7 linked regions of the Homo sapiens genome follow. The protein of the gene in region 1 purifies or fractionates together with the protein of each later gene. This does not show direct contact. Each region holds a gene or a part of one and is shown in the gene's direction. Other genes may lie near its edges.

Region 1 (4,646 bases):
ACTGGATTAAGAAAATGTGGCACATATACACCATGGAATACTATGCAGCCATAAAAAAGGATGAGTTCGTGTCATTTGTAGGGACATGGATGAAGCTGGAAACCATTATTCTCAGCAAACTATTGCAAGGACAAAAAACCAAACACCGCATGTTCTCACTCATAGGTTGGAATTGAACAATGAGAACACATGGACACAGGAAGGGGAACATCACACACCGGGGCCAGTTGTGGGGTGGGGAGACAGGGGAGGGATAGCATTAGGAGATATACCTAATGTTAAATGACGAATTAATGGGTGCAGCACACCAACATGGCACATGTATACATATGTAACTAATCTGCACGTTGTGCACATGTACCCTAAAACTTAAAGTATAATTTTAAAAAAAAGAAAATGTGGCACATATATACCATGGAATACTATGCAGCCATAAAAAATGATGAGTTCACATCCTTTGTAGGGACATGGATGAAGCTGGAAACCATCATTCTCAGCAACCTATCGCAAGGACAAAAAACCAAACACCACATGTTCTCACTCATAGGTGGGAATTGAACAATGAGAACACATGGACACAGGAAGGGGAACATCACACACCAGGGACTGTTGTTAGGTGGGGGTAGGGGGGAGGGATAGCATTAGGAGATATACCTAATGCTAAATGATGAGTTAATGGGTGCAGCACACCAATATGGCACATGTATACATATGTAACAAACCTGCACGTTGTGTACATGTACCCTAAAACTTGAAGTATAATTTAAAAAAAAGAAAAAGAAACATTATGTTAAATGAATTAAGCCAGATATACAAAGTCAAGTATTTTATGATTCAATGTATAAATCAAATGTCCACAATAGGCAAATCCTTAGAATCAGAAAGTAAATTAGCGGTTGCTAAGTGGGATGTGTGAATAAAAATGGAGAGTTACTGCTAATGGGTATGGTTTCCTATGTGGTGATTAAAATGCTCTGTAACGATATAGTAGTGATGATTGCACAACTCTTTGAATGATCAAAACACATTCAATTGTATACTTTAAAAGGGTAAATTGTATGGTAAATGAATTATACTTCAAGGAGGTTTAAATTTTAATAGAAATTTTAGTCCTAATCAAGGTGACATTTTCTCCCATATTTTGCCTCCAATTCTTCCACAGCACATAGTGCATCTCACATAATATTTATAATGTTGGAGTGCAATTGTTTATGTACTCTCTCTTACTTACTCAACTATAAGATCCTTGAACTTGTCACACACGTTACTTTAGGAACTAGCATGGAAAAGGTCTTCACAAATACTATCTGAAAAATCAATAAGCCAGTAAAAGTAAACCTCCATATGAGCTTACTCCTCTGCTTTTCATCACCATCTATTCTGTCCACATTTCAAGCAATGTATTTCCAGCATGAATTTGTGGTGTGATTTGACATGAAGGAGAACATCAGTCACCAAAATGAAAGGATTGTACCACAGTACCCTTATTTTAGTTTAACTTCGACTTTTTTAGATTAACTCTTAATCAAAAATTGGTACTTAACAAGGAAAAACTTGCCTTCTGTTGTTTTCAGAGAAGTAAAAAAAGCACCTCACCTTTGAGTCGCCAAAATTATGCTTCCTGGAATGACCGCATACCATGTAGCAGGTTTATTTTAGTTTGTTTACAGAAAAGTGTAGACCAAAGTCCAGTGCTGACTTTGGGAGCTACTAAAGACATGAAAAAGTAGAATTTTAAACACATTTCATTGTAAACGACTGGGAGTATCTGAGCAAATTATTTCTTACGTGACTTTAGAGAAAACGGCTACCTATCTGACCCCAAAACGACTTGAGGAAACTGTTTCCACGGTCCTGCTGCAGAGGGGAAGCACAGTCGTCAAGAAGAGAGTGGGGTCAGGATCAAAACACATTTAGTGTGACTTAGGGAAAGAAAACATTTTCCCTCTTTGAACCTCTCTGGATACAGTCATTTTGCCTCTACTTGAGGATCAACTGTTCAACCTCAATGGCCTTTCAGGACCTCCTGGGTCACGCTGGTGACCTGTGGAGATTCCAGATCCTTCAGACTGTTTTTCTCTCAATCTTTGCTGTTGCTACATACCTTCATTTTATGCTGGAGAACTTCACTGCATTCATACCTGGCCATCGCTGCTGGGTCCACATCCTGGACAATGACACTGTCTCTGACAATGACACTGGGGCCCTCAGCCAAGATGCACTCTTGAGAATCTCCATCCCACTGGACTCAAACATGAGGCCAGAGAAGTGTCGTCGCTTTGTTCATCCTCAGTGGCAGCTCCTTCACCTGAATGGGACCTTCCCCAACACAAGTGACGCAGACATGGAGCCCTGTGTGGATGGCTGGGTGTATGACAGAATCTCCTTCTCATCCACCATCGTGACTGAGGTAAGAGGCTCTGTTCTCGTCTCATGAGTATGTGACCTGGGTGTTTAGAATAACACAAGTAATAATCATGCTTCCAGCCTTCAGTCACATGTAGGTCCTTAGTCTTCATTCTTTCAGCAAATACTAATTGCTTCTTTATTAAATGTCTGACACCTACACATTTTGAGTAATGAATTCCAAAGTAGAAGGCATCCTGCTATTATAATGCTTTAAGTCACAGGGAGACCAAAGTTTAAACAAGCATTTATATATAATATGTTAAAATGTTCTGCTAGGTCAGTGATGCTCAGCCTGTCATTGCAAATTAGAAATATCTGGGAAATTGAGAAAAGCCTCCATGCCCAGAGTATACCCTAAAACAATCATATGAGAAGGTCTAAGAGGGAAATTTAGGTTTCTAAAAGTTTTTAAAGGTCTTCAAGTGATTGCACCATGTGGTCATGTTTGAGAACCATTTAGTATGAAATAAAAACCTATAGGTTTAGGAAAGTCTTCCAAGAGAAAGTTATGTTTAAGTTGAGACCTGAATAACAAAGGTCAGGTAATGCTGAGAAAGGAAGCCACAGAGGAAGTTAGAGACTTAATATTAGGAAACTTGCAGATCATGCTAAGAAGTTTTGATCAAGTTACACTGAGGGGTAATAAGCATTGATGTGCTGGCTTCCTTCTCTTCCAGTGGGATCTGGTATGTGACTCTCAATCACTGACTTCAGTGGCTAAATTTGTATTCATGGCTGGAATGATGGTGGGAGGCATCCTAGGCGGTCATTTATCAGACAGGTGAGTGTGTATGGAACACAGCTCTCTTTAAGGGCATTTTTTATCAACTTATGAAACATTATTTCATCTAGAATTACTTACTGCAAATTACATTCTCCTGAGGCTGCCCTGATCCCCAAACAGAAAAGGAAATTTTTAGTCCGTGTTTTGAGTGCTATTTTTAAAATTTGAGCTCTGTATGCAGGACACAGAAATGATATCTCCATGTGAACTGGGGGTGTTTCAAGACAGGTTTTAGAGAGAAGGTACCACAACATGTGGTTTAGAAATATGAGAAAGAGTTAACTAAGGGAATAGAAAGGAAGACGTTTCATCACATAGGATTCAGCCTTGGCCAGGAGTACCAGGTCCAGTCCTACCTGGACACTGTGAGCTGATAGCTTGTGCCCAGAGAATTGTCATTACATCATAGTTCCAAGTGTGATGAACACGCATTCCTCTAAAACCTGTAGGGTATATTTGAAGGTATCATTGGTGGTGTGTTGAAAAATTATGTGTAGAAACTTGATTATTGTCTTTGCAAAAACAGCTTTTTAGAACCATGTGAGGTAAGTAATCCAAGGATAATACTATCTCAGTCTGTGGTGTGAGAAGTTTGGGGTATTCACCTTGCTGTATGTCTCCTGACATGGCAGGGAACAATTACCTTCACCCAACCATGTCTCCCCTGATGGCGATGAGGGACTTGAAGTGCCACTTGCCATCCACCAACATCATGTCTTCTGGTGTCTCACCTGAAAATTTGAACCTTGAATGTACGACAGGAAATGGAATGTAGAATGAGCTAAGAGTCAGAGGGTTAATTTCCAATAGTTAGTCACCCAGTCCTCTGTGATACTGTCCTGGGAAAATGCAGATAGACCAATTTTAATAGATCACAGGGTGGTAAAAGAAGGGGTAGGAGATGCCAGGCAGGAGATGACAGTGGAGAATCAGCTAAAGACGAAGGGACAAGATAACCTAAGGATTTTGGTATTTCTCACAAACCTAAGAGGAAATATTATGTGATTATATGCAGAGTAGGCTATGATCAAACTGATTGTTTTGGAATAACTCACTCAACTGTTTATGATATCTTAAAATCGGAAATAATCTATAATTTCATTAATAATAGGTTAATAAATAAGCAGATATTCACATAATGAATTTTTACAGCAAAGGGAATGAATAAAGTACTGTCTGCAATAAGGTGAATTAACATCAAAACCATTTGGTTAGGTACCACAAGACCAACAAAAAGATTACATACTATAGTGTTCCACCAATGTAAAAGTCAAAAACAAGGAACTACATTATGATGTGAGAAAAGGGAGAAATCTAATTTCCTTTAGATTTCTATTGGAATTGCATTAAATCTAAACAGCAGTTTGGGTAAGACTGACATTTTTTAAATACTGAATTTTCTGATCTATAAATATAATATTGCTTTTAATTAAGGTAGACTTTTGTTTAATTT
Region 2 (4,086 bases), on another chromosome or scaffold:
CTGGGCCACGATGTGAGGCCATTCCTTGAGAGCAGTGGCACATCGTGTGCCACGGTGGTGTGCTTTCTCTCTTCCATGGAATATGGGTGATTACACTGTTGCTGGGCATTTAGAGAGCAACGGGGCCATGAGGCAGAACCTGGGGAGGGTGTGTGGCGTCACCTTTCCCACCACCCAGTGTGATGCAGGTTGCGTCACACTGTGCACATGGGCATCTTGTGCTGGTTCTCTGCATTGGCCCTAAAATTCACAGGGGAGTATTTGGGGCCTTTTTAAAAATAAAAAGTGAAACAAGGTCTTCCTCCTAGTAAAGTTGGAAAGCATCTTACCAACCATTAGTTCAGGTGGCCTCACTCTACTGCAGGATAGTAGAGACACTCTCAAAAAAGTAACTGGGCGTGTCCAGGTCACACGGTGTGCTGGCTGGATGGTACCAGGGCAGGATGAGATCACAGGGCCTCAGAACCTCCACCTGCACTTCATCTCCCAAACCCACTTGGTGATTCTCTGGGTATCTGTCGGTCACTGTGATTTCTCCCATCACTTCCGTGGAGTCAAAGGCTGAGTAAATGTGTGCAGAACTGACACTGCAGGGCGCAGTGGGTTTGGGGAGAATGGCCACCTGGCTTTGTAATCTCTGCCTCCGTTCTCTGCCACATGGGAGCCAATCTGCAGTGCTGACCTAGTCAGGGCCCCACCTGACAGGCTGGAGGGTGACCTGAACACCCAGGGGCGTGGTAACTGAGATGGGCAGCTTCAGCAGTGTCTAGGACTTTGAAGCAACTTTTAAAAATGCTGAAAAATAAGAAACACGCATATCTTCCTTTGTTCCAACAGTAGGTTTAGTCAGCCCTAGGAGGCCTGTGCAGCTGACGTTCGCTCGCCTCCCGTGGGGGTCAGCCTCTCGGGTGCTCTTTAGACTCTGGCTTCCCAACATGCGTTGGTGGATGGGTCCCCTGATCTTTCTCCGAAGGACTTGCTGTGTTACAGTATTTCTTTCACTTTATATCTCAGTTTTGCATGGGTGATAAGAGAAAAGTGCATGGGGTGAACCTGCGTGACATTTGTACCTGGCATCCGATAGTGCATGTTGGCTACCTAACCCAGCCGTCATAAATGACCTGACTCACAGCACAGCAGGAAGTCATAAATGTTTTCTTTCCCTTTGACATTTGACAGTGATTTCACACACTTGCGTTTCATTGCTGTTGAAACAGCTGTCCATCCCATTTGTTAGTGTGTTTTAATTTGCTCGAGATTATGCAGGCTTTGACAAAATCCCAGCGCTTTCTAGCCATTAGCGGTACCAGCTTCATGCTGCGCTGACGGTTGCTGCACACACAGTCCCCACGTCAGATCCTGAGCTTGCAGGGGAGAGCTCCGTCGGGCTGGGAAGCGCCAGCCCTGGTTTGCAACAGCACACATGCGCTGTCCAGAGCCTGGGGCCTCCTCCTGCTGCTCTGGAGATTTTCGGATAACTGTAAACGTGATCTTACTATTCAGTCAACCATGTGGCCCTCTAGGTGTGGCACCCTGGCTGTCACCTAAGCCAACCCTTGTTCTGTCAGGGTACTCTGGGCGTCACTGGGCAGGCTGGGAGGTCCAGGCCCTTGGCACCTCAGCCATGTGTGACCTGCAGGCTGGGGTCAAGTCTTGGCATTGCACCATCAGGTCTGCGAAGCCTAGGGGAACCCCTTCCCGCTGGGTTTAATATAGCCATTTGTAAGGTGAGGGGTTGGACCAGAGCAGCGGAGATGCCTGGCAAAGTGCAGCGGTGCCTCAGGAGGGAGGCTGCTGCTGGCATGTCGTGGGCAGACATGTCGTGCGTCATAGCCTGCAGCACCCAGGATGACCCACGGCAAAGAGTGGCCTGGCCTCAGATGCCAGTAGTGCTGAGGTGCAGAAACGTTGGATAGATGACCTCTAAGTGCCTTTTCAGATGTCATTCTGTGATTCCAACTTGTAAATGCCTTTGACCGAAAAGAGCAGCTCTGTGTCTTGTGGCAGTGCCACCTTGGAAGACTGTAGTTGCCTGCCGAGGCACTGGGGGAAATCACGGTAGCAGAGTGTTAGGGCTGCTGCCCTATAGGATCTGCCCCAGAGGGCCTAACGTCAAGTCATGCATCTCCGGGACTGATCCTTGGATTGTTGCATGTGTCCAGACTCACAGGGTAGCGCTCAGGAGCAAGCACTGAGAGCCCCCTAGTCTGCCCTGGGAAGGCACCGGGGCTGACAAGAGCTCTTGCCTTCCACAGCGTCTGTTCCTCACACACCCCGCCCAAGGACGTGCCTGGCAGCGGCCTGGTGCTCCCCGCCGCAGCCACCTCACCCTTGGGTTTCTGTGGCCCTGCAGTTCCTCCGTGTCACAAAGCAGTACCTGCCCCACGTGGCGCGCCTCTGTCTGATCAGCACCTTCCTGGAGGACGGCATCCGTATGTGGTTCCAGTGGAGCGAGCAGCGCGACTACATCGACACCACCTGGAACTGCGGCTACCTGCTGGCCTCGTCCTTCGTCTTCCTCAACTTGCTGGGACAGCTGAGTGAGTGGCTCTGCGGGTGGTCAGGATTCACTGGGCGTCTTGTTCCATGATCGTTAGCAGTTGGGAGGCTGTGTGTGAACTCGGGGGTCTCCTGGACTGCTGTCCCCCCTCCATTCCCCTCTTCTCCAGCTCAGCTGTGCCAGGCCAGGAGTCCGGTTCTGCAAGCCTTGGTGGGGACGCTTAGTCTCTAGCCCTGAGCTCACTGCTTTAGAGCTTGCTAAGGAAATAGGACATGGTCCCTGTCAGGGACCCAAAGCAGGAGATGCTGGAGTCTGGCTGGCAGTCCACAGTAGAGCAGTTAATTGCCTACCTCAGGTGGGTGGCTGACTTGGGAGCTGATTGTGGGAAACAGCCCATTCTTTATGACGGCAAGGGCTCCACTTTCTGGTGTTTGTGATAAGTCTAGTCAGCTTACCATGTGTGGTCCTTGCCTATCATTAATTCTTCCAGAAGTTGTCTTTTGCTTGGGTAGGTGGTTTGGCTGCCTCTGGACCTAAGGGCCAGGTGAGGTAGCAGTGTATCAAGACAGTGCTCCCCGCCGGCACCCACCCTCAGGCCCCCTAACCCTTGTCCTTCTCTCCAGCTGGCTGCGTCCTGGTGTTGAGCAGGAACTTCGTGCAGTACGCCTGCTTCGGGCTCTTTGGAATCATAGCTCTGCAGGTACACGGGCCGCGTGGTCGGGGCTCCCTTCTCTTTGCTCTGGTGGAGCAGAGCTTCTGAAAAGACATCCTTGAGGGTTCAGTGTCACTCCCCCTTCAGCCCCCTGCATGTCTCTGACTGCCTGGAGCTCCTTTCTCTTCTGGGGAAGTCGTGAGCCCAAGCAGGGCTGTAGAGGCAGGTCATTCGGTACTGGGCCATCTTTTGTCCCATTTCTATGATTACCGTGACAAGGGAAGTCTCGAGCTTGGCTGCAGCCAGGATGCTGTCTTGTTATCACGTTGCTTCATAAAGAAGAATACTTGGTTATTCAGAATGAAATGCTGGGAACAGAATATCTGAATCCACATCAGTGGTCTCAGAATCACTTTGTTCTCTGGAACATCATAGCACATTTCTTGAGAAATACAGAACCACATTTTTGAGCTTAGATCTGTCCTCGGTCTCCTACAATGGTTTTGTGTGTTTTAGACTCCAGCTGACATTGGAGAGACGGCCTAATGTATTATGAAGTCTGTGGAAATGCCTTTGGAAAGGCTGAGACTCAAGTATCTCTCTCTTCTTTCCCCTCAGACGATTGCCTACAGCATTTTATGGGACTTGAAGTTTTTGATGAGGTATGTGCATTCTGGTTGGTTTTAGTATACGCTCCTTCTACAGGTTGAGCATTGCAAATCCAAAGTCTGAAATGCTCCAAAATGGGAAAAATCTTGGGCACCAACATGACGCTCAAAGGAAGTGCTCATTGGAGCATTTCAGGTTTTGGATTTTCAGATTTGGGATGCTCAGCCAATAAGTATATAATGCAAATATACCAAAATCTGAAACACTTTGGGTCCTAAGCATTTCAGGTTAGGGATACTCAATCTGTATTTCTAAACTCAGTTAA
Region 3 (4,086 bases), about 58 Mb from region 1:
TTGTGGGTAGGCAATTTGCAGATTGGCTTCTTGTTCAAAAATTTCAGTTCAAGTGAGAGACATTTTAGATGCTGAACACGTTTTCTTGTGCGAACAATGCAATGAGGGATGAGTGAGTCGATCATAAATGATAGATTCCATAGTCAGATCACAAAAGCTGACCACAATATCACCGAACTGTATTGTAACAGGACCATGAGTATAGAATGGACTTAAATATGTACTGAACTGACTAATGTTTTTTAGAGTTTAAGCATCTGAAACAGGAGTTGGCAAACTATCTGTAAATGGCCAGGTAGTAAATGCCTTCGGTTCAACGGGCCATACTGTCTCTGTTGCAGTGATACTATAAGCCCACCTTTGTAGCAGAAAAGCAGCCACAGACAGTATGTAAACATCTGGGTGTCGCTGTGTTCCATAAAGATTTTTACAAAGCAGGCTCTGAGTTTGGCCCGTGGGCTGCAATTTACCAACTCCCGATCTGGAATATTGATTAGAGGTAGAGAAATAAATGTATTCCAGTTCTTAACACCAAGAATACATCTTCCTTTGTTCTGTCAATGGGAGTGTCAGAAGAACAGATAGTCCCAATTCTATGGTTGTGGTGGCAGCATGGATATCTTTTAGGGAATTTATCTTAGGTGTCAGTGCTGAAGCAAAAATCTCTGAAGTATGAATCCTTGAAGGAGAGAGATGAGCTGAAACTTGTAGCTGAAAGAGGAAACTATTTGTCTGAGTACCTAGTCCCCTGCATTCCCATCTTTACCACTTGCCATGCTGCCATAGGACGCGGTAGGGAATGACACTGAAATGGAATTCCATCTGGGCTTGTGCCACTTAGCAGCTTGATGACCTTTCCTGGGCCTCAGTTTCTCTAACTGAGCTTTAGCATCCCCATACATAGTATGAAGAGATTGGACTAGAGATGATATCTAAGATCCCTTCTGGCTCTAAAGATGGCATGTAGGGGATTCTGATAGCAGCAGATGTACTGCATATGACTGTTCTTAAATCAGGAACTTGAGATATAGTGTTTCTGAAAAATTTTTGCCTGGAAAAATAGAGACATGGTAACTAATTGTCACACATGCTTATTTTTTAGGGGCTAAGTGATGGATCTTGTACTCCGTGTTGCAGATTACTATTTTTTTACACCATACGTGTATCCAGCCACATGGCCAGAAGATGACATCTTCCGACAAGCTATTAGTCTTCTGATTGTAACAAATGTTGGTGCTTACATCCTTTATTTCTTCTGTGCAACACTGAGCTATTATTTTGTCTTCGATCATGCATTAATGAAACATCCACAATTTTTAAAGGTAAGAAATGTTTTTACCTATTTTCTAACGATTAAAGTAAAAATAACAATATGATATATTTCTGAGATTTTTAGATTAAGCTGATTATATGTAACCATTAAATAAAATTTTGGAGACCAACCACAAATGGGTTAGATATTTTCATGAGGGTTAATCCCTGCTCTCCTTCCCTTAGTTTAAGCAAATCTAACTTTTTAATAAAACTATAAGTCTAGTATCGTATCTTGCTAGATGCATATTGGAGCATTTTTATGCTGATATTGATGAGTAAATAAATGCATACATTTATGTAATTATTTTAATATATGATTTTCACAAACTGAAATGTGTTTTTTTACCATGTTTTGTTTTTTGGCTAGATAGGGGATTCAAACTCAGTAGTTTTAAAGTTGTTTACAATCATTTTTAAATTTCGGTTGTTTGTACTTGTCAGTGACTCCAAGGACTGAACAGCAAAAAGAAAAAATAGAGAGGATTGGGGATGGAAGTTAATTAGGAAAGAAATGGTTATTCCATAAATAGAAGTTTAGAATGCAGATTTTGGAGGAAGGAAAAAAGGTTTCAGAATTTGAAATACTTATTGCATTTTCTCAGTACAAAAGGAATGATTTTCTTACATACCTATTTTTATGTATTTAAAATTTTAATAGAAACAGTTTGGAGGTAAGCCCCTTCATGTAAAAGAGATTTTAAAAATCCAGTCCAGAACAGTTTTATGCTAGTTTTGTTTAACATGGATTTTGTGATTTTTAAGTATTGGAAATTTCACTTTCAGAATCAAGTCCGTCGAGAGATTAAGTTTACTGTCCAGGCATTGCCATGGATAAGTATTCTTACTGTTGCACTGTTCTTGCTGGAGATAAGAGGTTACAGCAAATTACATGATGACCTAGGAGAGTTTCCATATGGTAAGTAAATAACACGAGTGTCAGGAAGAGAGTAGTCTAAGCACAGGTTAGTTTCCTTAAAAAAACAAGTCTGCCCTTTTTTTTTTCATCTTTTAAAATAATTACAAATTATTCAGTTGTTTTTTAATGTTCTATTTTCATGTGTTCATGTCTTGCCACATGTGCATTTCTTTAGTTTTTCTATCAATCTGAAAGTCTGCTGTAGATGAGATTGTGTCTGGCGGAAGATTGGAGTGATCAGAGATGGGTCCTTGCATTTGTTTTCTATTAATTATTGAATTCAACCTTCTAAAAAAAACTTGAGTAGCTTATGTCATTGCTGAAAGTTAAAAACAGATTTTTAAAATGCATTATTCTGCTTCTTAGAAACTGTAACTCTTCTGGCATACAACCACCCACTTTTCTGTGCCTGTATACTTCATTGTTTACATTACACAAATGAAGTCCTGAGGTGCATAGTGGTTTGGGCTCTGAATTTTGTTTCTCTTAGCAACTTACATGGTTGTATTTTCATGTCAAAAAAATCTTGAGATTATGTAATATATTAGTCATAGTACTGTGCGGATATTCATAAGTTATGTAAATGATACCTAATTGTTAGACCTTCAGATTGTTACTCTTTTTTGTATTATAAACAGCCCTGTAGTGAGTAAACTTTTGTGAAATTCTGAAACTTTTTCAAGATACATTTCTAGGATCTAGTATGTAAAAAGCAAGAATCATAGTATTTATTGAAGGCTGATATGTGTCAGTGACAGTTCTCAGCTCTTCACAAGAATCAGTCCATTGTTTTCCTACAATTCTATGAGATAGGTACTATCACTGTGCTCCTTTTATAGGTGAGTCAATGAGGTGTACAGAGAGTTTCAGTAACGAGTTGGTGGTAGATCTGAGACTTGGACTCAGGCTTGCAGGCACCAGCACCCCCACACTTTAAGTAAGAAGTTAGTTATTGCCGGGCGCGGTGGCTCAATCCTGTAATCCCAGCACTTTGGGAGACCGAGGTAGGAGGATCACGAGGTCAGGAGTATGAGACCATCCTGGCCAACATGGTGAAACCCCATCTCTACTAAAATACAAAAAATTAGCGGGGTGTGGTGGTGCACACCTGTAGTCCCAGCTACTCAGGAGGGTGAGGCAGGAGAATCCCTTGAACCTGGGAGGCAGAGATTGCGCCACTGCACTCCAGCCTGGGCGACAGAGCGAGACTCCGTCTCAAAAAAAAAAAAGAAAAAAAAAGTCAGTTATTCAGAAGAAGGAACAAAAAATTATATACTAGAGTAATGAATTGGCTGGGCTTTGAAAAATGGATATGATTATGAGTTAAAATAAAGGGAGAGAGGACATTTTAGGTTCTTGAACCCCTATGATGAAAGATACAGAGGTAAAACTTCCAAGACAGTGGGAGGACATTGAGTAAACCTGCCTGGTTAGAGTAGAAATACAGGAGTGATGAGGTTGGAAAGATCCGAAAGGGGTGGAGTATGGAATAAATGCTAAATTTAAAGTATTTAGTGGAAAGTATATTTTAAGCAGGGAGATAATGTGTAAAGATGGGTTTTAGGAAGATTAATATGAAGGAAGTGATGATTCCCAGAGATTTAAATAATAAAGATGTCTTAGGAGTATCCTGTCTCACAAATATCTTTATAGTTTAATTAAGAAGTACTTTAGGTAGAACATTTCAAGTACTTATGCGAGGGAAATGAGGAAATGACCAGATTCCAAGAAGCCAAGAGAGATTAGTTTATAATATACTGAATTAGCCAGAACAGATCATTTATAATGTTTGAGTCTAGGATCCCATTTTGCACTCAGATGGACATGTGAAAAGTGAACTCTAATCCCAGGAGCTG
Region 4 (4,807 bases), on another chromosome or scaffold:
GCTGTTACCAAAACGCCTAGCACATAGTAGGCACTGAAATCTTTGCTGAGTGAACAAAGTAAGTGAAGCTGAAATCAAATTGTATCTTTGATTTGGGCCACACTTTTTTATAAAAATATGCCAGCATTAAATAGAATATCACTTTCTGATTCTCAAATGCATCAAATTGATAACAAATCAATAACTAGTACTTTTGTACCAGATATTTTTCTAGAGTTTTACCCATATTAATTTAACCCTAACAGCTACATGTAATGTTAAGTGCTATTTTATCCCAAATTCGTAAATCAGGAAACTGGAGCATAGACAGTTTAGGTAACCAACCCAATACCACACACCCAGTATGTGGCAGAGCTGACTCCTGAGATTTTTATCAGACTAGGTTAACCTGTTTATGGTCATAAAATCATCCGCCTTTTATAAACAAATATATGCCTAATATTTACCACTTCAGCTACAGAAATTCTATATTAGGAAGAAAAACTCTCTATTAGGAAACTATATATTAGGTGATTGTATGACAGTTAAGATTTAGCCCCGGTACCTACAGTTACTCACTCTGCTACTGCACAAAACTCTGCAAGGGCTCCCACACCGCCCCAGGTGTGGGATGCTAAGTGTATGGTGCAGGTACCTCCGTGCACAGCCACACGGGCTGCTCTCAACCCCAATAAACATGTTTACCACATGAGCCTCACATGTGGTAAACATTTTTTTTTTTTTTTTTTTTTTTTGAGACAGGGTCTCATTCTGTCGCCCAGGCTGGAGTGCAGTGGCGTGATCTCGGCTCACTGCAGCCTCCACCTCCAGGGCTCAAGCCATCCTTCACCTCAGCCTCCCGAGTGGCTGGGATCACAGGCGCAGGCCACCACACCCAGCTAATTTTTGTATTTTTTATTTAAGAGGCGGGGTTTCGCCATGTTGCCCAGGCTGGTCCCGAACTCCTGACCTCAAGTGATTCGCCTGCCTCAGCCTCCCAAAGTGCTGGGATTACAGGAGGGAACCACCACGCCCGCCAACTTCCCATGCTTGAGGGAGAAATGGAAGAAAGTTCATGTAATACTCAGGCAAGTCCAATTTTTTCGACGTCTTTCACTTGGGCCACACACACAACTAAAGTAACTAGAAGCGCAGGCTCTAGGAGGCCACCGTTCTGTTCACAGTGAAGAGGGTGCGCTCACCGTTGGTCGTGTCCGCTGGAAGCCCCGCGTCAGGCCGGGAGCGGGACAGAGACTCTTGCTCAGGGCCGTTATCCGAACTGATCCGCTTCCCACCGCACCCCCAGAGAAACCCACCCAACCCCCTAAACCTAAGAAACCCAGACTGCGCAAACCTGCAGGAACAGAGCCATTTCCCCCTAATGTGTGCTTCAAACCCACCGAAGCCCAACTGTAAGCAAGACCAGCGTGCCCGCCCTGCACGATACTGCTTCTCCCCGCAGCAGCGGCTGCCGATCTGGGCAGCGGGTGGGTATTCCTGGGGCTCCGTGGACGTTGAGCCGCCGCGCGAAACCGGCGCCGGCTGGACCTGCAAATCGCCGCCCGGCCGGCAGGGGACGCCGCGGACGCGAGGGCGAGGTCGGTCGCCCAGGAGGGGGCGCGCGAGGCCGCAGGGGCGGGGGGCGCCGCCTCACTTGCCCTGCGCCCCTCCCCCGCGCGCCCTCCTGGCGCGGCGGCCGGCGAGGCCCCTGTGGGAGAGGGGGCGGGGACGAAACGGCCCCGAGGCTCGGAGCGCCGCGCGGCGGCGGCGCGAGCCCGAGGGGGCGGGGAGGCGCGGGCGGGTGTGCGCGCGCCGGGCGTGGGTGTGGGTGGGGGTAACCGGCGCGGGCGCCGAGATAGCGCCGGGCAGAGGGACCCGGCTACCCTGGACAGCGCATCGCCGCCCGCCCGGGTCGCCGCGCCACAGCCGCTGCGGATCATGGTGAGTGGGGCCGCGCGCCGCCACCGACACCGCCGCGCTTTCTTTCTCTCCTGGACCCACGCACCGGGCGGGAAAGGGCCGAGCGGGCGCCGGCGCGGGCGCTGCGGGTTCGCCGCTGGAACCCGCTACCCTCGGAGGGGCCGGGTCCGCGCGGGCCTGGGGAGCGGGAGCTGAGCGTTTGGGCCGGGGGCGCGCGGGTCGGCCCGAGGCCCGCGGGTCTCGGGAACTTTGTCTCGGTCCCCTCTCCCCGGTCCCGCCCCGGCACCTCGAGGCGCCCGCTCGCGCCCAGTCCCCTGTTGCATGCACGGGGCCGGGCGCCCGGGATGCCCGAGGAAGCCGCCCCTCCTTCGCGGCGGCCATTCCCGCGCGCAGCCCACCCTCCGACCCTCCGGACCCCCGAACCTGCTCTCGCCACCGCCCGCCGACGCCTGGAGCGGAGAACGGCGTTTCCCGCGCGCGGCACACACCCTGCCTCGGGAGTTCTGGGGTTCGGGCCCTAACGGTCAAGCTCTTGCCCCTCTCCTCCCTTCACCGCGCCTGCACCCCGGGGGTGTGTCTGTGCACTCGTGGGTGCCTCCTGGGTTTGCAGATTGGCTTGGGAAGCGGCTGGGTTTCTATCAGTGTCTGGGCTCGGAGGGGCTTCTGGTGTGTTCTTTCCGACAACTCCTCTCTCTGCCCGATTTCCCAGGCCAGTCCTCCACTCTGGATTAGTAACGCTTCTTTCTCCTCGGCAGTAAGCTGTGTGTGTGTGTGTGTGTGTTCACCCGTGTCCGATGAACTGCCTGACAGTAAGCTGTGTGTGTGTGTGTGTGTGTGTGTGTGTTCACCCGTGTCCGATGAACTGCCTGACAGTTTTAGTAGCAGAGCCTGGTTCTTTGGTTACAAAGGGAGAACATCTGTTGTGCCATCCTCAAAGGACTGGTCTTTAGGCAAAATGTGAAATCCGCGTTTGTCTTCAGTGGTCCATATTCAGTGTTTGCCTCACCCCCTTCCCGTAGGGTTTTCTCTCCACTTCAGGACTTGTTAAAATAAGCGCACTTCCTTTCTCTTCCCCACTCCATCTGATTTTGCTCTGGCTACCCTTTTAGGCACGTACCATCTGCCTGATTATGTGTGACCACTTAATCTTAAAATTCCAACCTTTCCTACCCCGCCCACCACAGTGTATATTCCCCTTGCCTGCTTCATTTGTCTTCTCTTGAGCATGTATTAGTTAGCGTACTGCATATTTTGTTTCTTTAGCTTGTTTCTTGAACGTCTCCTCTACCAGAATATAGGTTTCAGGAAGACACAGATTTTTGTCATTTCGTTCATTGCTTGCTAGATTTCTAGTACCTACAGCAGTGCCTGGCGCACAGTAGGTACTTGATAACTCTTTTGAATTAACCCAATAAAGCAAGCTGCTTTATGTTAATGCACAGGTGGGGAGTAACTGCAAAGATTATGCAGTTGACATTTGTAATGATGAGAGTCTCAAGTGAAGTTTGGGAGGAGGGAGATACTCCCGACAGGAGGGACCCGATTTTGGCAGCCTTCAATGACGAGTCTAGGCGGCTATCTCTTATGCCTTGTCTGTCGCTTCATGCTCTTTGCACCTTGGCATCAGAGTGGACAAAGCATTTTTAGGACCAACTGGCTCTCCTTTTGGGCTCTGAAGCTTTGTCCTAAAGTATAGGTAGGAATTGTAGTGAGTAAGGGAATAAGTCCAAGGAAATCTCTTTAGCTGAATAGGAAAGTCATGGGAATGTTAACCTAAAAGAGCTAAAATCAAGGGCAAGCTCTTGAAAGCTTTATCCTGCCCAAGTGTGATGCTTCCTGTTTAGATAAGTATTTCTCAGAAACTGTGGGTCTTCAGAGGAATTTTTTTTTAATACCCAAATCCAAATTGTATTACTTTTTTCTTCTTTCTTTTTTTGTGGCAGGGTCTCACTCTGTCACCCAGGCTGGCATGCAGTGATGCAATCTTGGCTCACTGCAACCTCCACCTCCTGGGCTCAAGTGATTCTCGTGCCTCAGCCTCCTGAGTAGCTGGGATTACAGGCGCACGTCACCACACCAGGCCAATCTGTGTATTTTTGGTAGAGACAGAGTTTCACCATGTTGTCCAGTTTGGTCTCTAACTCCTGACCTCAAGTGATCAACACCCACCTCGGCTTCCCAAAGTGCTGGAATTACAAGGCATGAGCCACCATGCCCGGCTGAAATCGTATTACTTTAAAAAAAAAATGGGCAGGGAGTAGGAAAGTTAGGGGGTTGAATTTATAAATAACTTAGTGGGTCAGTTCAGAGAGACATCCTTTTCAATACATGTCCAATATGAACTGTCTTGTAAGATATCTCTGCTAGTTAGTCTTATTATTCCAAAATAAATATTTTTTCTTTCAAATTTCCTTTTGTTTTTCTATAATGTGGATTTATGGCATTGGTTTTTTAAAAATTAGTCTGGAGAAATGTATTAATTGGAAACAAATTGTTTAATAAAATTTACATAAGTTTTTGAAAATTATGTAATTATAGCTATGACTATGTAAGTTCAGCAGTTCTGTGGTTACCATCTTTCCCAGGTAGGTAGTAGAAATTAAAGGTAAAAAGGAAAGAAATATAAGTTTGTCTTTGAAATTAAAACCAATGAACCAACCAAAGATGAATGAAAGATACCTTATTGACTTAAGTTTCTATTTGTAGGATATTTTACTGTTAGGATTCCTAGGATTCCAAAGTATCCAGCCTTTTTCTCTTTCGATTCTTCGAACGTATAGCATTTTCAAGGAGTAAAAAATCAATTTTTAAAGTATCCAGTTGGGTAAGCCTAATTTTTGGTTCTTCAACAAGGGTTCCATTTAATCTAGTTTCCTTCAAAACGTTTTAGTCAGTTTGGGAGGTTCAG
Region 5 (4,086 bases), on another chromosome or scaffold:
TTTGGAACCTTCTTCCATTATTGCTCGCAAAGCACAAGTGTTTTGGACATAAATAATTGAATCAGAGAGCAAACCATCTAATTCCTCAAAATTAATTTAGGCTGAGTACACAAACACATACATACCAGTTATTTCTTTTAAGTTCTAGGGCACTATATTATCAGTAGCTAAGGTTAACAACCCTTCTTGTTGAGTTGTCCTAAGTGGTTTATTCCATAGTAGTTGCTCCCATACAATGTGGGTAGTTGAACTGAGTGATCACCAGTTGCTTCAGACAGTTTTTTTTTCTATGGCGTTGAGCTATTCACAGGACTGACTTAAAAACAAACCAACAGAAGTTTTAGCTAAGGAAACCTCCCAGAGTGCTTTTGTGCAAAATCTAATTTTGATTTTAGAGTTAATAAGCTTGGAAAATAGAAATAAATCAATTTTAACTCTTGTCTCTTTTATACATGTTCAGGTTTTGTAGGTTTGTTTAATCTGCTGCTCTTATGGCCAGGTTTCTTTTTACTTCATTATACTGGATTTGAGGACTTCGAGTTTCCCAATAAAGTAGTATTAATGTGCATTATCATTAATGGCCTTATTGGAACAGTACTCTCAGAGTTCCTGTGGTTGTGGTATGTACTGTTTATTCTCCAATTATTATCAGTTGATTAATTTTTGGATATTTTAAGCATTTATATTTGTCTGTTTGCTGGTGGCCCTTCCTGTGCACCCCATTCTGCAACACACATACAACTGAATACTTTAACTCCACTAGAGCAGGGACTTTGTTTTTTAACTTCTGTGTGCCCATTCTAGAGTAGTACCTTGTCCACAGAAGGAGCTCAATAAATACTTGTTGAATGAAAGAATGAATATGAATGGTCTAAATCTGTAAAAATGTTTTAGAAAGTGGAGTGTTATGCAAATGAAAGTAGTCATTATCTAATGGATATCCAAACATATGAGGTATGTATGCCAAGTATGAGTGCATGAGTTCTAGTTGAGAATCCAGGAGATGCTGCTTATTTAAGAGGCTTTGGAATATCTGTTTGCTTGTTCATAGGTGTTTTTGTTTTATTTATTTTCAGAACCTTTCATATGGGTGAGCCAGATATGTAAACCTTAAACTCTGATTGATTTGAGATGTTAACATACTTTGATATGCTGTATATCCAATATACTGATATGCGATAATAAACTTAAAATAGTATGAAGACAGTATCATGTATGGAGTTTGAGAGACCTTTCAAATAACAGAGCTTTATACTTAGTCCTATTTTTATTTAATAGAAACTTGAAATGAATAGAATGAATAAAACCTAAGTGAATAAAATGAGTTTTATTACATACCCATTGAAACTGCTAACTAGTTTTCCCTTGCAAAAGACTGCAACAGAAATAGACTTTTTTGTGGAGTCTTCCTTAATGCTCTGCCTACAGTGCTGTCTCCCTGCCCAGTTAAGAAATACCTATTTTCTTGGTATCCCCCATATCACTCTCTTTTGTGTAATACTTAAAGATTTACTTTGTATTGTAGTAATTTATGTTCTTATCTAAACTCCTTTGCTGATCTAAAATTCTTTAAAATCATAATCCATTTGCTCATTAATTTTTTCATCTTTAGTTATGTACATTTTAGATACTCGATTTTTTTAACCTTAACTATTAACAGATGACAAAAGGCTTTAGCCTTTAGCTAAATTGGATCCACCTTAACAGCTGGATTAAGTCAAACAGGCTTTATAATTCTACCTCCCAGGTTTTTTATTATAGTACTCTGCATGATAAACATCCAAGAACATATGCTGTATTTGACCCCGAATGCTCTTTTCACAGAGCAGCTAAGTAGTGGGAACCACAAGTACTTGTTTCCTTTACCTCATCAATAAGGACTCGTTGTTCAGCCTCTGTTCATTACTTCTAGTGACACTTTATTGAGAGATAGCCCCTTTTATTGCAGGACAGCACTATTAATTCTGACATATACTGAGCTAGATTTTACTTGCCTATAACTTCCATGGATCTGTAGTCCTAACAATATACATTATGGTTTTATCTTGGCTTATAATTCATTTTCTCCTTATATGCCCAAATTATCAGTCTTTATAAATGGCTCATCTGTCTCCATTGGGTATAATATTTTCTTTCAATTCAACAAAATTGTATGCAGATAGATATTTCAAAATTTCATACCCACATTGTTAATTCAAGGTGAAAATAAAGAGCTTACTTAGCTTTTGGTTAGGACAATTGTTAGAAAAATGGAAAACAACAAGAAAATATTTTTTAAGAATATTCAAGTCTTTCTTTTTTTATGCCAAGCCAAATCAAAAGAGTAACACATGATTTTAGTGTTCATGAAGGTGAGATATTTTTGCTTGGTGACAGAATCACATGTTGGCTTATCACTTCCTTAAAGTCTATGTGTGAAGTATTGTCCTGCAATGTTAATAATGCTGTTTTCTTTGTTATCTACAAATCATCACAAAACGGTAATAACTGTTCAACAGTTTTTTAAAAAAATTAATGAAATATAAGCTATACACCCAAAGTTGAATAAGATCTGCAAACAGCTCTTGAAAATAGCATAAAATATTTTGAGCTTTTTATACTTATATATTTGTATTTTTAATATTTGAAGAAAAACTGAGAATCATCTTAATAACTTTATTATATTTTATGTTTCAATCCATCCTAGCCTCTTATCTTTGCTCCTGATCTCACAGGCCTATATTATAGGATAGAAAGTCTTTGTTCAGTGTTTTTCTTTGGTTTAATTTTTTAAATATAGAAATGTATATTTTCTTTTTTTTAGGGGCTGCTTTCTTACCTCATCATTGATAGGCACACTTGCACTAAGCCTTACAATACCTCTGTCCATAATAGCTGACATGTGTATGCAAAAGGTAAGGAAACTATTTATTATTCATAGATATTTTAGGTGTGTTATTAAAACAAACCTAATGAAAGTTGAGATGTGATTAAATTATAAGGATACAAACATAAATAATACTTGATGCTTTCTCTCCCAAGGTGCTTTACTACATAGAAATATAGAAAGTACCGAAGAAATAGATAATTTCCATTTTTAGCTTTTCCATTTTTTTCCCTAAATTTCTAAGTTAAGGGCATCATCTTCATATGTAGTTCTCCAGTTTTTGAGCTGATTCTGTTCCAGATGTTCTTTGGTAAGTCACATTTTATCATACAAGCATTTTAGTTTCTGCGATAAACCCTATCACAGGCTCCTTAACACTGTGCTGAATGAGCAGCACAGGAATCATGCTGTTTGCAGTAAAAGTTAGCCATCTCTCTCTGGACTCAGCAGAGTGGGTATCCCATCCCTTTTCTCTGAAGGCCTAGTATGGATGTGGGGATTCTTGTGATAAATATTGGCAATGCTAACACCGCAGAAAAGAGAATCTGGGATGTTTCTGCCAGCAGCCTAGAAGGGAAGAGTTTATTCAGTGCTCTTGGGTGAAGCAGGAAGAACAGAGGTATGCTGTTGCCCAGCACTGAAAGATGGAGCATAGCCATTTATCACACAGTTCAGTATATGTAGGCATTTAACTTTTAACTGCAACTACTAAGTCACAGAAGTATGTGTGTGTGTGTGTGTGTATGTATGTGTGTTTTAGTCTAATATAATTTGAAGAGGGAAATACTTCAAGGCCCAAAGGCTTATAATGTGTACAAGCAATAATCAAAATTTTAAACCTATTTTTCTCTAGGTCTTAGCCAGGCACAGTGGCTCACGCCTGTAATCCCAGCACTTGGGAGGCCGAGGCAGGCAGATCACTTGAGGTTAGGAGTTCGAGACCAGCCTGGCCAGCATGGTGAAACCCCGTCTCTACTAAAAATACAAAAATTAGCTGGGTGTGATGGCGTGCACCTGTAATCCCAGCTACTTGGGAGGCTGAGGCAGGAGAATCACTTGAACCCGGGAGGCGGAGGTTGCAGTGAGCCAAGATCATGCCACTGCGCTCCAGCCTGGGCAACAGAACAAGACTCCATCTCAAAAAAAAAAAAAAAAAAAAAGATAAAAGCAAAATATGCTTAGTGCTCTATATCCTCTTTATTTATAAAATAATTCTTTAC
Region 6 (4,086 bases), on another chromosome or scaffold:
GCTTCCTTTGAGGAATTAATTTTTATTTTCTTACAGACATGATGATTTTATCTAACTGATCAAATTTTTTATTTCACATTGACCATTAGAAAACTTAAAGCTAAATTTATGACCTACCCATAGCAACTTTCTAGAATTCTGTTTTATAATAGCCATCAGGCTTGGCCCAATATTTTACCTGTTACCATTGTTGTTCATATTTCCTTATAGTTCATTTCATCATCCTGTATTTTATTTATCTTTGTAAGCCATTTAACCACTTAGGCCTTTTTTGAAACAAGGCTTAAGTAAGTTTAAAATCAGTAAATACAAAGGACACCATCAAGAAAGTGAACCAACATTCCAAAAACAAGAGAAAATTTTTATAAATTACCTATCTGATAATGGACTGGGACTCGTATCTAGAATATATAAAGAATTCTTATAGTTTAATCATATAATACAATTAAAAAATGAATAAAGGATCTGAATAGGCATTTCTCCAGAGATGATATACAAATGGCCAGTAAGCACATATGAATAGATGCCCAATACCATTAGCCATCAAGGAAATGCAAATCAAAACCACAATGAGATACCACTTCACACCAACTAAAATGGCTATAACCAAAAAAAAAACAGAAAATAACAAGTGTTGGCGAGGCTGAGGAGAAACTGGAACTCTCATACACTCCTGAGGAAAATGTAAAATGATGCAGCCACATTGGGAAACAGTGGGAGTGCCTAAAAGATTAAATATAGATTTATCATATGACCCAACAATTCCACTCCATTTCTACCTAAAGAGAAATGAAAACATACGTCCACACCAGAATGTATACACACACATTCCTAGCGTCTCTATTTATAATAGCTAAAAACAACCCAAATGTCCTCAATTAATGAATGCAGAAACAAAATATAATATATCCATATAATGGGATGAATATTGTTCAACCATAAAAGGAATTATTGATAGATACTACAACATGGATGAACCTTGCAAACATTATGGTAAGTAAAAGAAGCCAGTCACAAAAGATTACATATTGGTGGTTTCCTAGAAACAGAAAGTATATTGGTGGTTTCCTAGAGCTGAGGAGATTGGGGAGAAACAGGGAGTGACTGCTAATGGGTACAGGGTTTCTTTATGGCGTAATGAAAATGTTCTAAAATTGATTTAGGTGATGGTTGCACAACTCTTGAGTATACAAAAACCATTGAATTGTACACTTTAAATGGGTAAATTATATCTCATTAAAACTGTTATAAAAAGTGCTAACAAAAAGTTTTAATAAATGAAGTACATCTTATAAACTAATAAAAGTAATTCATGCAAATCAGGTGTTTATATCAAGAGTACAAAAGAAATATTTTTGAGTATAACATATATTACTGTTAACATTTATTTTCCTTTAATTCTTACATTGGAATGAGATTCCTAGGGGTGGGTAAAACAATAGTCATTCTACCAGCAATGGCATATGTTGATACATGTTAATGGTATATGTTGCCTATGAATATATCAAAAACATAAACATTCTTATTTTAATATATGAAATTCTTAAGATGTTAAGATGGTCATATATACCTTTCAAAAATTTGTATTTTTTAATCTCTACAAATGAGTAGATTTTAAGAGCCTAGTAGGCTGATTAGATAGGATATATTCAATATTGAGTCCAAAGAGCAAAAGGACCCTTTGGAAGACTAAAGAGAAAGAAAGTTGCTGCCCTCTCTTCCTCCCAGTGACAGTCTTTGACATTTATTTCAGCTCCCGTTATTTTCACTGGAAAATGAACCTGTGTGTAATTCTGCTGATCCTGGTTTTCATGGTGCCTTTTTACATTGGCTATTTTATTGTGAGCAATATCCGACTACGTAAGTATTTTACCCTCTCAGTCAGCATATAGATTGAGATGAGTATTTGAGGGGACTTAAATTGTGGATAGCTTCATTTCTACATTAACTTTCAGTATCTACCGCTATTTGAGGATACCTCACACACAACATCTTAAAAATAAATATAAAATAAATATTGAATGAATTGGCACAAAATAAATATTGAATGAATGATTAGGTTATTTGTTCTGCCACAGCTTTATTTTTCTACCTATTAATAATGTCTCCTTTAGTTCATCCCACACCTTAAATTCAGCTAAATTTCTCTTACGATGGTAAGGATGCTTTCACTAAAAATTATGCTGTTCATCAGTCATTTGCCAAGTGAATTAGCAGCCAAATATTAGTTAGCATTATCTTATATTTTTAAATAGAGCAAGCTCTTTAACCTATATCTGTTTTTCCTAACAGTTTTGTCTCCTCTGTCTCAGTGCATAAACAACGACTGCTTTTTTCCTGTCTCTTATGGCTGACCTTTATGTATTTCTTCTGGAAACTAGGAGATCCCTTTCCCATTCTCAGCCCAAAACATGGTGAGTATATATAGGAGGGCAGAGGAAGTGGGGGGAGACGATTTGTTTAATTTTCTGATTTCAAAAACAATTAATTAAATTTCTTGGGGAAAAAATGTATTTGGGGAAATAATTTATTAATTCACAGGTTCTTGGGATTTGGAAAAAAATTTTTCTGATTGAGGAGGATAGCAAGCTATTTCTCTGAAAAATGTCTGATTTTGAACCACATTTTCTCCTTCATTCTAAGAGATAACTAATGCTGGTTTTGGACCTCACTTCTGTCATTCTAGAGTAGGAATTTTTGACCTTCATTTACTGAATATACTTAAAGGGTATAAGGAAAGAGAACGGTGTCTAACTCATATTGTATATGGAACTACAGGAATATATTTGTATGTGTATTTGGAGGTAAGGTATCAATAAACTTTTATCAGATTTGGGTAGCAGATTTGGGTCTGTGACCCAAAAGGTAAACGGCCACTGCTTAAGTGATGATAAAGATACATTAGGGAAGCATATGTATTTGAGGAAAGGTGACATAAAACACCCACAATTAGTAGATAAAGAAAAGCTTTCCAAGAATCGGTGTCTCCCCTCTAACAAAAAAAGTTTATTTTAAAACAAGAAATTTGGCAGAGCCCTAATTTTTAAGCTAAAAACAATGAACAAAAGTACCTCAGCTAACAAGTCCTTCCAGAACTATTTCAGAAGTATGTATGAATCTATCTAAAAAGATTAGAGAATCTATCTAAAAAGATTAGAGAGCCCATCTGTAATAAATATACTACAGGTTTCATGCTGGAACCTTTTTAAAAAAATCTATATATATATACCTCTTTATTCACCATCCTGCCGTACCTATTACTAGGCTTCTTATTGCAGAAAACAGAATCTACTGTAACTAATTTAAAGCAGAAAGTGATTAATTATACAGTATCAGGCAATTTATAGACTTTCTAGGAAAGTAGGGATGCAAAGCTTAACTGCTATATAGTGAAGAGAAATACCCAACTATGCCACAATACTAAACTAGAAAACCTCACTGAAGTTATCACCTGCCACTCAGGGTCTATGACATCAGGGACCTCAGTCCCAGCTGTTTGAGCTCCTAAGTGCTATCACCACCCCTACATTGTTCATTTCTGCATCTGAGGCCTCACATGGGCCGGGTTTTTTGGTGAAACCTAGGTAATATTTAAAACCTTGGCCTCAAGGAAGTCTGAGAAGGGGCTTTTGGCTTTCTAAACTCTGTAGTACCAAAACAAATGCTGGAAAAGGATATTGGAATTAATGTTGAATGAGCCAGTGTCTATTATAGAATCTGCCATACCTCCCACACACCCTTCCATGTATACTGATTGCCTATAGCAGGAATTTCGGGAGAGAGGTTATGAGACTCTCCTGCAGTAAGATCAGAGGAGATATGCAGTTTTGAAAAGCATATGCAATACCATAAATAGTTGTGTATTTTTAAAATAAGAATAACTTTCAAAATTTCAAATAACGTTAAAGGCCGGAAAACTTAACATAACACCAGCCTGCCAAAAGCATTCAAACTCTTAGGTGGCGTATGAGACCTTTCATGACCTGGCTGCTGCTCTCTATACATGTTGCATTCTCCAGTCCTGTGAAATTATTTCAAGTTTCTTTTTTTTTTTCTTTTTGAGACAGGTCTCACTCTCACCCAGGC
Region 7 (4,086 bases), on another chromosome or scaffold:
CAAAATTCAAAGTAACGAGTTAGAGTAAAAACAAGGTTAGGCGTTTCAAACTGACTGAGAGGGAACCAGCAAACTTTAATGACTTCTCAGCATTTATAAAACATGCCGAATGCTAAGAAGGGAAATGGGCAAAGCACACAGCATATCACATACTACCAGAAGCTGCCTCCTCTGTTTGATTTCATATCACCCTGTGCTTATCCCATTGTAGCCGTTGGATGTTACATAGTCTGATGACTGTGGTCATGAGACCATATCATAGAGGCATGTTTGTCTTCTGCTTCTAAACTGTTAGATCCTTGAGGATAGAAACTGTGGCTGAAGGTGAATATCTAGCACCTTGGAAGTTCCTGGTCCATAAAATGGCCAAGAAAAGAGAACGATTGTTATACATGTAATAGCCACTCCAAAGACATTTGTCAAACAAATGAATGCAAAAGGAATAACAGCTGCTGTGTCTCCTGGTGCTGGTTTCTGCCTACCTCCTTCCAAGTATTGTCCAGATCCCCAGCCTTAGACTTGTGATGCTGTCCAAAAACGGGTTTTAGAGAATATTTAAAGGACAGAGAGAGGACCCCTGACTTTTTAGGGTTTCCATTTTAACATGAAGCAGCCTCTCTGGTGTCCCAGTCTTGCATGTAGAAAGGAAGGAGATGTGTTCCATGTGAGTAGCCAAGGGAGACCTATCAAACAGCTGTTTGTCATGGACATGGAATTTCTGATTCTGGGGCTTCTGTTTAGATTCTGGCTTACTCCCTGCTCAGGTAAAGAACTGCAAAAATATTAACTCCTTATGCGTCAGTTTGATTAAGCAGAATTTTTTTTTTTTTGAGACGGAATCTTGCTGTGTTGCCCAGGCTGGAGTGCAGTGGCGTGAACTCAGCTCACTGTAAGCTCCGCCTCCTGGGTTCACGCCCCATTCTCCTGCCTCATCCTGTAGTTGCTGGGACTACAGGCACCTGCCACCACGCCCTCCTAATCTTTTTGTATTTTTTTTTTAGTAGAGATGGGGTTTCACCATGTTAGCCAGGATGGTCTCGATTTCCTGACCTCGTGATCCACCTGCCTCGGACTCCCAAAAGTGCTGGGATTACAGGCATGAGCCACCATGCCTGGCCCTGATTAAGCACATTTAAGTTTGAGGTAACAGCACGTCTCCCTTCATTGGATCACTCGGTAACTGGAAAACATACCTATTCTTGTAATGACACAAATGAAGTGGAGAAGCTATTTAAATTGGGAACACATCCAATGTTTTATTACATTTGAATTGCAGGGTCGGTATTCTTCAGTGCCCTTCATTTTTCTTCCAGCACTTTAATGTAATTAAAAGGCCAGCCTAGAAGGTTTTTACACTCGCAACTCTTCTATTTTATCTTCTCAGAGTTTCCAAATGTTATGCGTTTGAATTGTAGCCATTCCAGTAGTCCCCGTTCTCTTTGGGGTATATGTTCCAGGACCCACAGTGAGTGCCTGAAACCACAGATAGTATGGAACCCAATTACCATCCATCGGAACACGTTTCTGTTCGTGCCTTCCACCCACAAATGTAATACTTTTCCTATTTTTTTTTTTTTTTTTTTTTTTTTTTTTTTTTTTTTTGAGAGAGAGAGACCGAGACAGGGTCTTGCTTTGTTGCCCAGGATGGGCTCGAACTTCTGGCTTCAAGCGATCCTCTCACCTCGGACTCCCAAAGTGCTGGTATCACAGATGTGAACCATGGCACCTGGCCCTGCCTTTTCCATCTTAGCACTTCTCACATACTGTGGCCTTAATTTTTGCAGTTTGAAATGCCACAGCAAAACTAGCACAATTTCTTTTCTTTACAGTTGCACAGGTAGAAGATTCATTCTTACTGTAGATCTTAACCTCAGCATAAGATTGGTTTTTTCCTTATTAGTTGAGAACTTTCACCTTTTCACTTAAAGGATTTTACAGCTTCTCTTTGGCTGTAAAATTGCCAGCATCACTACTCTCATGCTTTGGGGCTATTATTAAGTCAAAGAAGGGTGACTTGAACCACAAGCACTGCAGTACTGCAATCCTCAATCCTGTTAACCTGGACAGCGACTAGATGACTAACAGGCGGGGAGCATCTGCAACGTGGACACGCTAGACAAAGGGATGATTCACATCCCGGACAGTGGAGCAGGACAGCATGCAATTTAAAACTTATGCTTATTTCTGGATTTTTCCATTTCATATTTTCAGAATGCTGTTGACCTCGGGTTACAAACTGCAGAAAGCAAAACTGTGGCTACGGGAGGACTGCTGTAGTTTTATAAAGTGAATGGTAGCATTGATGCATTTTTGTGAATAGTACTGCTTTAGAGGTCACATTTCTAATGAGCTTGTTTGTGTATACCTGCGTTTTTTATGTTCTAGTGATGTTGGAATTTGGTAACATTGTAATCACATGTGTCTAGAGAATCTGAACTCAAAATTGGTGACCCTTCAGGGGGGAATAAAGCCATTTAATGTGAACTGCTAAGAGCCAAGGGAGCCTTGATTCTGGAACCTAGAGCTAGGCTGCACAGCCTAGTTCCTTGCACAGCCCAGCACTCTCCAGACTGTACAGACAGTAGAGTCTGTCTCTACTCTAGCAGAGAAAGACCATTTTCTTTCCATATCCTTGATGTTACTGGAGAAAAACCCAGGCTTCCCCTGTTACCGGCCACCTCAGGATCATTCGGATCATGCCCCATTCTTTACCTACTTGCAGCTCTCAGTAGTTCTGGGGACAAGGTAACTGCTGAGTACTTTTCTCCAAATCATGTGCCAAGAACCATAAAGTCAGGGGCATCTAGCCAAGAGGCAACAATTTATCAATGAAAGTGCATTATAAATATATTTATTTTGTAATAATTGCTACAAATTGAAAGTGGAATTGGACATAGAGTCTCTGTAGATTGAAAGTAAAATCTTCTGGAATACTTTCCTGCCTAAACTCAGTCTTTAAATTAGATATATTTTTAGCTTCTTGAATATGACGTTAAAATATTAATATTCCTAGCCTAGAAGATTATATTTAGTCCTTTCTGAAACCCTTTCTTATATAGATGAACATTTTGTATCTGAATGGAAGTTTATATAAATAATTGCTAATATGGCCATATTGCTATCTGTGTCCAAAATAGACTCTGCTGTTTTGAAATCCTTGAGGATTTCAGAAAGTATACATTTGCTTGTTCTAATATTATCTTGTATTATTTCAGAAATCCTGCCAGAAACCTGTAGACAAATATATCGAGTATGATCCTGTTATCATCTTGATTAATGCTATATTGTGCAAAGCTCAGGCCTACAGACATATTCTTTTCAATACTCAAATAAATGTAAGTTGTGATAATTTCATTTTTTAATTTTATTTGATGCTGTTACATTTTAAAAGAATAATAAGAATTTTAAACAGAAGTAAAGAATATTATAAAAGAGGAAAAGAAATTCTAATGTGAGAGTGGGTCTTTTATTGCAACATATCTGGAAGTTTCTAGAAATAATAGATGTTGATTTTGAAAGGTGCACAATGCTTAGTGAGTGTTTAAGAATATGGTCACTGGCAGGAAACTGACAAGCCATGATCTGAATTACCTGCTAGTAAATTGAAACAATCATCACTGGTTTTTAACAGAATACAATTAGACATATCCAGGTAGGGAGAGAATTATACCTAAATGAGTTAAGCAAACATTAAAAGAAAAATGTTTTTTTAAAACATAATTTATTGCATTTTATACTTTGCTATTAAAGGAATGTATAAGGTAAATAACATTCAGTTTAATCAAAGTCCTGATTTATAAAGTTGAATTTTTCAAAATAAACTTTTAGTTTATTGAATTGTGAGCTCTTTAATAGTTTGGGTAGAGTTGACAGATAACATACAGGACAGTCAATTAAATTTGAATTTCATATATACCATGAATTAATTTTTTAGTATAAGAATGTCCCAAATATTGCATGGAACATACTTATACAATAAAAATGGATTCATGGTGTGTGTGAAACTCAAATTTAACTGGCGGTCCTGTTATTTTATTTATTTATTTATTTTTGAGACGGAGTCTTGCTCTGTCACCCAGGCTGAAG

What was found.
Region 2: the proteins of SLC22A9 (region 1) and SURF4 purify together in Homo sapiens (affinity purification with mass spectrometry; 3 studies listed by BioGRID and IntAct, with this or other methods). This does not show direct contact.
Region 3: the proteins of SLC22A9 (region 1) and SC5D purify together in Homo sapiens (affinity purification with mass spectrometry; 3 studies listed by BioGRID and IntAct, with this or other methods). This does not show direct contact.
Region 4: the proteins of SLC22A9 (region 1) and ELOVL2 purify together in Homo sapiens (affinity purification with mass spectrometry; 3 studies listed by BioGRID and IntAct, with this or other methods). This does not show direct contact.
Region 5: the proteins of SLC22A9 (region 1) and SLC35F5 purify together in Homo sapiens (affinity purification with mass spectrometry; 2 studies listed by BioGRID and IntAct, with this or other methods). This does not show direct contact.
Region 6: the proteins of SLC22A9 (region 1) and GPR89A purify together in Homo sapiens (affinity purification with mass spectrometry, with the first as the bait; 3 studies listed by BioGRID). This does not show direct contact.
Region 7: the proteins of SLC22A9 (region 1) and ARV1 purify together in Homo sapiens (affinity purification with mass spectrometry; 2 studies listed by BioGRID and IntAct, with this or other methods). This does not show direct contact.

What each region holds. Positions count from the first base shown.
Region 1 is NC_000011.10:63,368,049-63,372,694, forward strand, and holds the start of SLC22A9 (organic anion transporter 7), read left to right. Parts: upstream 1-1,736; 5' UTR 1,737-2,008; coding exon 2,009-2,410; intron 2,411-3,086; coding exon 3,087-3,190; intron 3,191-4,646. UniProt on the Homo sapiens protein: Sodium-independent organic anion transporter, exhibits high specificity for sulfated conjugates of xenobiotics and steroid hormones such as estrone 3-sulfate (E1S) and dehydroepiandrosterone sulfate (DHEAS).
Region 2 is NC_000009.12:133,365,713-133,369,798, reverse strand, and holds part of SURF4 (surfeit locus protein 4), read left to right. Parts: intron 1-2,255; coding exon of another isoform or gene 2,256-2,353; coding exon 2,354-2,540; intron 2,541-3,123; coding exon 3,124-3,200; intron 3,201-3,770; coding exon 3,771-3,814; intron 3,815-4,086. UniProt on the Homo sapiens protein: Endoplasmic reticulum cargo receptor that mediates the export of lipoproteins by recruiting cargos into COPII vesicles to facilitate their secretion.
Region 3 is NC_000011.10:121,302,264-121,306,349, forward strand, and holds part of SC5D (lathosterol oxidase), read left to right. Parts: intron 1-1,102; 5' UTR 1,103-1,112; coding exon 1,113-1,322; intron 1,323-2,097; coding exon 2,098-2,230; intron 2,231-4,086. UniProt on the Homo sapiens protein: Catalyzes the penultimate step of the biosynthesis of cholesterol, the dehydrogenation of lathosterol into 7-dehydrocholesterol (7-DHC).
Region 4 is NC_000006.12:11,041,341-11,046,147, reverse strand, and holds the start of ELOVL2 (very long chain fatty acid elongase 2), read left to right. Parts: upstream 1-1,842; 5' UTR 1,843-1,917; coding exon 1,918-1,920; intron 1,921-2,322; exon of another isoform or gene 2,323-2,390; intron 2,391-4,807.
Region 5 is NC_000002.12:113,721,912-113,725,997, reverse strand, and holds part of SLC35F5 (solute carrier family 35 member F5), read left to right. Parts: intron 1-460; coding exon 461-620; intron 621-2,803; coding exon 2,804-2,894; intron 2,895-4,086.
Region 6 is NC_000001.11:145,621,301-145,625,386, forward strand, and holds part of GPR89A (Golgi pH regulator A), read left to right. Parts: intron 1-1,753; coding exon 1,754-1,860; intron 1,861-2,292; exon of another isoform or gene 2,293-2,312; coding exon 2,313-2,414; intron 2,415-4,086. UniProt on the Homo sapiens protein: Voltage-gated channel that enables the transfer of anions such as iodide, chloride, bromide and fluoride which may function in counter-ion conductance and participates in Golgi acidification.
Region 7 is NC_000001.11:230,985,105-230,989,190, forward strand, and holds part of ARV1 (protein ARV1), read left to right. Parts: intron 1-3,215; coding exon 3,216-3,335; intron 3,336-4,086. UniProt on the Homo sapiens protein: Plays a role as a mediator in the endoplasmic reticulum (ER) cholesterol and bile acid homeostasis. Participates in sterol transport out of the ER and distribution into plasma membranes.